Linked DNA regions of Homo sapiens. The protein of the gene in region 2 purifies or fractionates together with the protein of the main gene of each other region. This does not show direct contact. Each region holds a gene or a part of one and is shown on either strand. Other genes may lie near its edges.

Region 1 (3,654 bases), on a different chromosome or scaffold from region 2:
TTAAACTGAGTATCATTTCTTTAAAACATAAACCAATCTACTTAAAAATGCTTTGCAAAGCAACAAATTAGTGTCCATGTTATACACACATCACCACTCACCCACTCCTCTGTGAAAGATTGCAAGGGTGCCGTCAGCCAGGGCTACTAACACGATTCCCTTCACGTGTCTGCAAACAGGAAAGGGGAGTTCAGAACTCTCCATTCAGGAATACAGAAGGGACCACATGCTACTGAACTAGTTCAAGGCCTCACAAAGGGCCAATCTGTGATGAGTTAAGGAGCTGACACCTGAATATAAATGAACACACCACTTTCTTCACTGTGGATGTCCTGCTATGAAAAAATGTCAGCTGAACTAAATAAACAGTATGAATGGTATCTCAGTTATTTCACTTTCTGGCCCAAGGTTCTCCTCTCATCACAGACAATCAACACAAACTCTAAAGACCAGAGACATGCACCTTGAGTGGAACCAACAGAGTCAGCCCTGTAGGCTCAGAGATAAACTGTCTGATTTTTTTACAGTGAACACATAGAAAAGAACTAGTAATCAATGCCCCAATCAACATATTTACAAGCCATAAAGAATATTCTAAAATAAACATAACTTAATAGGTATTGGTTATTTCCTGCAGTGCTAAATAAATCGCAGTATGGTGAGGACTCAATCAAGCAAGTTATCCTTTCTACTTCGTTTTCTATTATACAGTTTCATTCTCACTTAACTTCTCTAGTTCCATAAAAAGGGTTAAAAAAACAAACAAATTGGATACTAATTTAGTCGTGAAACATGTATTAGCTTTCAAAGTCTTAAAATCTAGTTTATACCAAAATGCATAGTTTTAACAAGAAGAATTTCCAAAATAAAACTTACACAATACTGAGAATCGAATCTTTAAGTTTAATGGAATGGAGACATTTCCTCCACTGGGCTACAGATGAATGGACATACAAACTGTAAGAACAAAGTCAACACTGGTAAGGCATAGAGAACATCAAGACATTGCATATATCTAACAATGATCGCGAAGTTCATTCAGAAGGAAAGAAGAGTAACATACAAATTTTAGGAAAAGGTGCTGCTGCTTTTGTGCAATGGTCAGAAAAGAAAAATGAGAGTGAGGGTAGGCCTAAGGTAAAGAAATAGGCTGCTGAGCAAAGAAAAACATATGAAGACTGAAAAGCAAGAACTAGTGCAATGCACAGTCAGGTTCACACACTTAGTCCTTGGGCAAAACTCTTTTTTTGAATTGCCTTACCTCTCTACTACACTGATCTATAACTTTTGGATGACAGAGTGGCCCACATAGGGAGTGGCAAACTATGGCCTACAGGCCAGATCCAGTCTGCCACCTGTTTTAATCCAGCCTGCAAGCTAAGAATACTTTTTACATTTTTAAAAGTGTGTGTGGGGGGGAAATCAAGGGTATTTTACGACAGGGGAGATTTATATGAAATTCAAACTACAATGCCCATAATGCTCTACTGGAAGAGAGTTACACTAAGTTTGCCAACTCTTCACTTTATAGTATTGGACTCATATGAAAAAGACATACTACAGGTTGAGTAACCCTTATTTGAAATGCTTGGGATTTCTGACTTTTTCAGATTTTAGAATGTTTACATCATACATAACAGTTGAGTATTCCTAATTCAAAAATCCAAAATGCTCCAATGAGCATTACCTGCCAGCATCATAACAGTGGTCAAAGAGTTTTAAATTTTGGATTAGAGATGCTCAACAGTAATCTTGCTTAACCTTTGTAAATGCACAATTTTGTAAAACTCTCCACACAACCGGAAAGTGAACAAACCATATAATATTAGTCATCATCATCTGACTTTGCAGATTGTGATTTGTTTTACCTATCTTAGTAAAAAATTCACTAAAAGTTGGGATTGGGCCTTCCTGCAGCCAAAATGTTGGTTTAATCCCTGTTTTCCTGCCCACATTCTAGCCTACATAAATTAAATATTCTCTGTCTTTGTGCTGTTCAGGATCTTCTATTTCTGGAGCACCTCGATTTTAAAATTTTACATACCTCTTCTTCCAAGAATATTATAGAAAGGGAACATTCTGTGACAAAGAAACATATGGCTTACTATTCAGAACCAGTGCAAGTCCAGTTTATGTGGTAGTTGCAACATAACATCAAATTGTGTGTATATATAAAATTCTTTGCATTAATCCACACTTTTTGTATTTGTTTACCATATTTTACTTATCTTCTGATTTCAAAAGCAAAAGTAAAACAACATATTCTAATGTTAAAAGCATTGACACCTACCAGCCATTTTGAGCTCCAAGCCACATAGTTGGTAAAAGACTACTCATTTTCTGGGCTTCTTCTCTCACCAAGTCTTGTTCATTTGGCAGTACTGATATTTGATCTTTATATGCATCTGAGTCATTGCTGGAAAGGGAGGGCAAAAGGAAAGAAATCTGAGTATACTTAACTATCGTTATAGTTTTCAGGGACTGAATCCTTCTATATTTAAGTTTGTTCATTTGTTTATTATTTATTTATTTTTTAGAGATAGGGTATCACTCTGTCACCCAGGCTGGAGTACAGTGGCACAATCAGGGCTCACTGCAGCCTTGACCTCTCAGGCTCAAGTGATCTTTCCACTTCAGCCTCCTGAATAACAGGGACTAGAGGCACACACACTATCACACCTGGCTTCAACTTTTAGTCAAAAAAAAAAAAAGAAACCACCAAAATTCCAGAAAAGCCAAAGTCAAAAGCTTACATCACATATTTCAACAATTGTACCAGAAATAACATTAACAAACTAGGAAGCCCAAGGAGCAGAAAAGATAATAAGACATGGTAATGAAATACAGCAGTTAATATTCAGACAATTACTATGGCTGTCTCTTATTTTGGGTTTTGTCATAGTTTCTTCTCAAGTGAGAGAGAAGGGAGGGATACACACATACAAATAGTAGGGAGAAATATAAAGAATGACCTAAAATAAATTAATAAACTGAAATATGTTTAATATTCTATCACAAAACCTTTCCTTTGAATTGTCAGGGCATATTTAGTAAAAGATATATAACCAGGCTATCAAATTCAAACATGACTTATTCTTAAATTAATAATTCAGGCCAGGTGCGGTGGCTCACGCCTATAATCCCAGCACTTTGGGAGGGTGAGGTGGGTGGATTTCTTGAGGCCAGGAGTTCAAGACCAGCCTAGCCAACATGATAAAACCCCATCTCTACTAAAAATACAAAAATTAGCTGGGTGTGGCAGCACATGCCTTCAATCCCAGCTACCTGGGAGGCTGAGGCAGGAGAATCGCTTGAACCTGGAAGGCGGAGGTTGCAGTGAGCTGAGATTGCACTGCTGCACTCCAGCCTGGGTGACAGGGTGAGATTCCATCTCCAAAAAAAAAAAAGAATTAAATATTAACCCATTTATGCCGGAGGTTGCAAATTTTTTTTGTAAAAAATCAGACCTTAGCGATGACCTTGAGCAGTAGGATATGAATAACTCCCACAAGCTTAGCATTCCAATAATGGACCACTAGGCATAAATGGGTTATTAATTAATCTTTCTTACTTTATACACTAAGAATATTAAACTTTAAAAAGGATCTAGTTTAAAGAGACTCTCATCTAGAGGGGATCTAGAAAAGGCAGGAA
Region 2 (3,654 bases):
ATCCCAGCTACTTGGGAGGCTGAGGCAGGAGAATCGCTTGAACCTGGGAGGTAGAGGTTGCAGTGAGCCGAGATCATGCCACTGCGCTCCAGCCTGGGCAACAGAGTGAAACTCTGTCAAAAAAATAAAAATAAAAATAACTGAAAATACAATTTTGAGTTAAATCGAAGAGCACAGGTGCCAAGTGTTAAGAAAACTTTATGAACAGAAGCTTTACATTGAGAATATTCTATCAGCTTATTTATTGTCTGTGAATTGGGGAAAGACTACCAGGATTCTGTTTTAATGCAGGAAACCCTCAATCCAGCTGGTAGAACACCAGGGCTCCACAGAAGCGCAGTTTTGGCAATCAGAAGGTTGTTGATGACTTATCAAGGACAATATCAGTAGAGTAGTGAGGCCAGAAGCTAGAGGGGGCTGGGGCTGAAAAGTGAGGATTGCATTGTCAAGATGTCAGCAAGTGTTTACTGAATGTCACTGGAGATACAATGTTGGAGGCAGGGGGATAGGAGGAGACAGTCAAAACCCTACCCTCATGAAGCTTGAAGTCATTCAGGGGAAACAAATTTGTCACAAAACAAATATAAAGTAACACTGTGATAAAAGCTATAAAGTGGAGGTGCATGGTATTCTAAGAGTGTTTATCAGAAGGCCTGGGGCCATTCAGGAAGGAGCTGGAAGTCATCCTGAGGAAGTGATGATTGAGCTAAAACCTGAAGAATGAGTAGGAGCTAAGGAGGTGAGGTGACTTTGGGAGATGGGAGAGGATATTCCTGGAATGGGCAGAGACCATGGCTAGAAAGAATATGGCATTTTGAGGCCAGTAGAATTAGGGTTCAGAGAATGAGAGGGGAAATCATACAACATGAGCGGAAGAGGTAGGAAAGGGTTAAACATACCTCATCTTATCAGCCACATTAAGGATTTTGAGGTTGATTCTAAAGCAAGGGGTAGTCACTGAAGTACTTGAGCAGTAGGATGACAGATTTTCTATTTCAAAAAGGTCACTTTGGCTGTATAATTGAACAGTTTATTTGAGGTGGTCATGAGAAGATCCAGGGAAACCTGTTAGCAGACTCCTGATGTAGTCCAGGCAAAAAGTGACAGTTGTTTAGACTGGAAAGTTTGTAGTGGTGGTGGAGAGACATAGATGTGAGAAATTCGAGATGGTAAAATGGAGAGGAAGTGATGGTTTGGATGTGAGAGTTGGGAGAGAAGGGTGTGGAGGATGAGTTCCAGACTTCCAGCTTTGTACCAGTGGTTGGTGATGCCATTTCCTAAGACAGGAAACAGTGGTAAAGAACCAGGCTTTGGGGCAAACATTGTGAGTGAGTCTCAGCCAGGAGACTTTGAACCATCTGAGTGGATGGGTCAAGAGAACAGGTGGATATACAGGCAGGAGTTCAGAGGAGAGGTCCAGGTAGGAGCTATGCCTCTGTTAGTCATCAACATCTAGGGGTAATTGAAACCATGGCATGGATGAGAGTGCCTAGGGAGAGAGGGTGGGCTTCGAAGAGAAGGCTTGGAATTAAACCTCAAGTAGAAGAGGGTGGTCCTGAAAAGGAGACAGAGAAGGATGAACCAGAGAGATCAGAGAAAAACCAAGAGGGAGAAATGTCATGAAAGCCAAGGGCAGAGCATTTCCTGAAGACGAAAAGAGAAAGCATAGGTGCTGCTGAGGAGTGAATTAAGATGAGGACCTAAAAAGGTCCATTGGCCTTAGGAAAAGAGATCATAGGTGGTTTAAGCAAGAGGTCAGTGACGTGGAGGGCAAAAGCCAGATGTAATTGGTGGAGGAGAAAATGGAAGATGAGAAATGGAGGCTGCACGTATAAATAAGTCTTTCCAGAGGTTTGCTGTGAAAGTCAGGGAGAAAGAGGGTGATTTTGTTCTGTTTTAATGACAGAATTGAGGACCTGTAAAAGCCAGTGTATTCTCTAGCAAGCAGACTCAAAAAAGAAGAAAAAGAAAAAAAAGCCAGTGTGGAGAACATAGCTACATCATACTCAATGATGAAAAACTGAAAGCTTTTCCTCTAAGATCAAGAACAAGGCCTGGAAGAAATTAAAGAAGACATAAACAAATGGAAAGACATCCTGTGTTCATAGATTGGAAGATTTAATATTTTTATAATGTCCATACTATCCAAAGTGATTGGCAGATACAATGCAATCCCTATCAAAATCCCAACAGCATTTTTCACAGAAATAAAAAGCCCTAAAATTCATATGGAACCACAAAAGACCCCAAATAGCCAAAATCTTGAAAAAGAAGGGAAAGCTAGAGGCATCATACTGCCTGATTTCAAACTATATTATAAAACTACAGTAATTAAAACAGTATGGTACTGGTATAAAGACACATAGATTAATGGAACAGAATAGAGAGTTCACAAATAAATCCACACATGATACGGTCAACTGATGTTTGACAAGAGTGCCAAGAATACGCAAAGTGGAAAGGATAGTCTCTTCAACAAATAGTGTTAGCAAAACTGGATATCCCCATACAAAAGAATAAAATTGGGCCCCAATCTTACATCATACACAAAAAATCAATTCAAAATGGATTAAAAACTTGAACATAAGAACTGAAACTGTAAAACTTTCAGAAGAAAACATAGGGGAAAGCTTCATCACATTAGTCTTGGTAATGATTTCATGGATATGAAAATCACAGGCCACAAAAGCAAAAATGGACATGTGGGATTACAAAACCATAAAAGCTTTTGTACAGCCAAAAAAAAAAAAAAAAAATCAATAGAGTGAAAAGGCAGCCTATGGGATGGGAGGAAATATTTGCAAACTGTACATCTGATCAGGGGTTAATTTCCAAAATATATAAGGAAGTCATAAAATTCAATAGCAAAACACAAGCCATTTTTAAAATGGGCTAAAGACTTTGATAGATATTTCTTCAAAGAAGATATACAAATGGACAACAGCATAGGAAAAGATGCCCCAAATCACTAATTTTCAGAGAAATGTAAATCAAAACCACAATGAGATATTATCTTACACCTGTTGGGATGGCAGTTATCAAAGTATAAAGCAATAAGAGTTGGTGAAGATGTGGAGAAACTGAAACTCTTGTGCACTGTTTGTGGGGGGGATGTAAAATGGTGCAGTCACTGTGGAGAGCAATATGGAGGTTTCTCAAAAAATTAAAAATAAAACTACCATATGATCCATCAATCTCACTACTGGGTATTTATCCAAAAGAATTAAAATAAGAATCTTGAAAATATATTAGTACTCCCATATTTCTTGCAGCATTATCCACAATAGCCAAGATGGAAACAACCATATCCACTCTATGTATACACCACATTTTTAAAAAATCCATGCATAGTGGATTTAATGTGGTGTATACATAAAGAGGAACATTATTCAGCCTTTAAAAAGAAGGAATTCCTGCTATTTGCAACACAGATGAACCTTGAAGACATTATACTAAGTAAAATAAGCCAGCCACAGAAAGACAAATACTGTATCATTCCACTTACATGAGGCATCTAAAATAGTCACCACAGAAACAGAGAGTAGACTGGTGATTGCCCAGGGCTAGGGAGAAGGGGGAGTTGGTAATCAATGGGTATAAAATTTCAGTTATGTGAGGGATCTGCTGTACAACATTGTGTTTATGGATAATACT
Region 3 (3,654 bases), on a different chromosome or scaffold from region 2:
CTGAATTAAGGAAAATGGGAAAACTATGACAGAGATCAGATCAGTGGCTGCCAGAAGTCAGGGGTTACAGCAAAAACTTGACTACAAAAGGACAAGAGGAAATTGTTCAGGGGTGATGAAAATATTCTATGTCGTAACTATGATGGCAGTTACAGGACTGGATGTATTTGTCAAAACTTACTGCATTATACACTTAAAATTGATAAATATATTGTATATAAATAGTACCTCAATAAAACTGGTTTTTAAAATGGAACGAAAAGAAAAATGTAAGTTTGAGAGCAGGTATATTAGTCTGTTCTCACATTGCTATAAAGAAATACCTCTAGCATGGCCAATATAGGGAAACCCCATCTGTACTAAAAATATAGAAATTACCAGGTGTAGTCACATGCTTGTAGTCCCAGCTACTCACGAGGCTGAGGCACAAGAATCACTTGAACCTAGGAGGCGGAGGTGGCAGTAAGCTGAGATTGTGCCACTGTACTCCAGCCTGGGTGACAGAGCGAGACTCTGTCAAAAAAAAAAAAAAAAAAAAAAAACCGAGACTGGGTAATTTATAAATAAAAGAGGTTTAATTGGTTCATGGTTCTGCAGGCTATACAGGAAGCATAGCAGCTTCTGCTTCTGGGGAGGCCTCAGGAAACTTACAATCACGGCAGAAGGCAAACAGGGAGCCGGCACTTCACATGGCCAGAGAAGAAGGAAGAGAGCGGGGAGGTGTTACACACTTTTAAACAACTAGGTCTCATGATAACTCACTCACTATCATGAGAATGGCACAGAGAGGATGGTGCTAAACCATTAATAAAGGATCCACTCCCATGATCCAATCACCTCCCACCAGGCCCCACCTCCAACCCTGGGGATTACAACTGGACATGAGATTTAGGTGGAGACACAGATCCAAACCATATCAGCAGGTGTCTGTCACCCCACTTCCTCCGACAATGCAGTTAAACAGAAGTGCCACCATGCATCAGCACTAGTTACTAGGAAGGGCAACCACATGCCAGATAGTGGAAACTTCAAGGACTTTCTGCTAATTGTTGATTAGACTCGATTAGAAGAGAAATAACAGGAGGCTGAGGCAGGAGAATCATTTGAACCCAGGAGGTGGAGGTTGCAGTAAGCCAAGATCGTGCCGTTGCACTGCAGCCTGGGCAACAGGGCGAGACTTCATCTCAAAAAAAAAAGAGAGAGAGAAATAAACTAGGACCAAGGAAGTAGCTTGGTCTCCAAGAAATAAGTAGAGATCCTGGATACACACAAAACCTGCTAACTTGCAGAGGCCAGGACAGGCCCTGAATAAGCATGGGACCCTCCATTTGGAGTTCTCAGCTGCTCTGGAATGGTGGTATCTGAGGGCACCCCTTAGACCTAGAATTTTCACCAAGCTTAAGGCCTCAGGTAAAGACAGTGGATTTTCTTCTTCTTTTTTTTTTTTTTTTTTTTTTTGAGACAGAGTCTTGCTCTGTTGCCCAGGCTCGAATGCAGTGGTGCAATCTCAGCTCACTGCAACCTCCAACTCCTGGGTTCAGGCAATTCTCTCTGCCTCAGTCTCCCGAGTAGCTAGGATTACAGGTGCCTGCCACCACGCCTGGCTAATTTTTTTGTATTTTTAGTAGAGACAGGGTTTCACCATCTTGCCCCAGCTGGTCTTGAACTCCTGACCTCGTGATCCACCCACCTTGGCCTCCCAAAGTGCTGGGATTACAGGCATGAGGACCGCGCCTGGCCGAGGGTGGATTTTCTTAAACCTCCTGGGCAGGCCACATGCCCTGGAAATAAGACAGGCTGAGAACTGAAGGAGCCTTTCCTGAAGAATGGGTCAATAAGTAGCCAACTCCAGACAGCTGGTTCTGCAGAAGCAGCGGGGCAGCAGCAGCAGCAAGAAGGACCAAGCAGAAAGAGGAGGCCCCTGATCACACAGGAGGGCAGCACAGCCACCCCAAAAGGGCTCCAGTGAGGGCCAACAGGACTAGCTGAATTCCAGATAAGCCCAGGGCACTGACCACACGCACTCGGCTTCGTTCCCCAAACCCTATGAAAACAACAGTGAAGACTATGAAAGGCATAAATTGCTTTTATGGGAGAATGGGAAGGGAGCAAGCAGCAGATGAGATTTCAACAACTTTTGGAAAGGCAGGAAGTGAAATAGTCACAAAGGAGGGGCCAGAGGGGAAGCAAGCTATATGTCCCATTGGCATGCGCAGGCATGAGGGACCACGGGAGGCTGGGGTAAGGCATGGAGCTAGAAGCAGGGCTGCAAGTTTGAACAGGCTGTTGGGGTCCTGGGTCCGCTCCCAGCACCTACCCACCCACCCAAGAGATCATATCTCCCAAAGCCACTCTTCACCAGAGAGTGGCAGTTTATTCTAGAGACTTTACCCATAAAGGCTGAGGAGTCAGGGACCAGACGTAGCAGAGGCCAAGTGGAGGCATGAGGCTAAAATCAGGAAGCAGGTGAAGTATTCCTACTCACCTGGGTGACCCTGTCCCTCTCCCCACACTGGTTCTCAGACACCAGCAGAGGAGTATGCGCACCCCACCAGCCCTGCAGAAGGCTGGTGAAGTCTTCCCTGGAAAACTGACAGATACCCCCAAAAAGAGACTTCCACACATACATTTTCCCTAGCAGTCAAAAAGTGAGCCTGAGATCTGATCACTCTACAGAAAACCCTGTGGTCAGGCCTTGGGAACTATAACTTCTAGTGGATATTTTCCACATATCCCCATTTTCTTTCATTTTTTTTGAGACAGAGTCTCGCTCTGTCGCCCAGGCTGGAGTGCAGTGGCGCAATCTCAGCTCATTGCAACCTCTGTCTCCCGGGATGAAGTGATTCTCCTGCCTCAGCCTCTCGAGTAGCTGGGTTTACAGACATGCTGAGTCACCACGCCCAGCTAATTTTTGTATTTTTAGTAGAGACGGGGTTTCACCATATTGGCCAGGCTGGTCTCAAACTCCTGACCTCAGGTGATCCATCCGCCTCGGCCTCCCAAAGTGCTGGGATTACAGGCATGAGCCACTGTGCCCAGCCAAATTCCCATTTTCAACAATGCCCTGCCCTTGCTTGAAACCCAGGCCCCCAGTGCCTGAGTTCCAGAAGACCTTGACAATAGTGAGTGCTCAAAAGGGCGAGATCGTTCTTTCTTATTGTTGTTCTTACGACTAATTCTCATCAAAACTCTTCTTCGTAGATGCGCAGATTTAAGTGTCCTCTACTCTGTCACATCAGCCTTCCTAACTCGTCTTCATTTTCTACCTTAATATATTTAGGGTGCGTTTGTGTGCAAGTGTGTATAAAAATATATGCCTTCTCATTTCATCAAAACTGGAGATTTATGTTTCTATTTCTTGTGTTCCTGGTCATTTTAGATGATTTCCAAGATATGTCTTTAATCTACCCTCTTAAAACTAAATAATTAAATGACCATATTTCTAAAATGTAGCATTTAAAGGGAACATGGCTTTTAAAATCATCACGGCATACAAAATATCATTATTAAATGGATCACTTTGTGCTAAAAGTCAATCATTTCTATTGTCATAATATTCAGCAAATGTCACCAAAAATCACTAGAGGTCCTTAGCTATCAGCAGCTGCTTATGGAGAGACATTTCTTTAACAGTCCAGGTTGCCACTAACTGCC

What was found.
Region 1: the proteins of FAM163A (region 2) and SPAG9 purify together in Homo sapiens (affinity purification with mass spectrometry; one large-scale study listed by BioGRID and IntAct). This does not show direct contact.
Region 3: the proteins of FAM163A (region 2) and CRTAP purify together in Homo sapiens (affinity purification with mass spectrometry; one large-scale study listed by BioGRID and IntAct). This does not show direct contact.

The regions. Positions count from the first base shown.
Region 1 is NC_000017.11:50,984,822-50,988,475, forward strand, and holds part of SPAG9 (C-Jun-amino-terminal kinase-interacting protein 4), read right to left. Parts: intron 2,417-3,654; coding exon 2,291-2,416; intron 958-2,290; coding exon 877-957; intron 170-876; coding exon 102-169; intron 1-101. UniProt on the Homo sapiens protein: The JNK-interacting protein (JIP) group of scaffold proteins selectively mediates JNK signaling by aggregating specific components of the MAPK cascade to form a functional JNK signaling module.
Region 2 is NC_000001.11:179,749,739-179,753,392, forward strand, and holds part of FAM163A (protein FAM163A), read left to right. Parts: intron 1-3,654.
Region 3 is NC_000003.12:33,120,514-33,124,167, reverse strand, and holds part of CRTAP (cartilage-associated protein isoform 1 precursor), read right to left. Parts: intron 1-3,654. UniProt on the Homo sapiens protein: Necessary for efficient 3-hydroxylation of fibrillar collagen prolyl residues.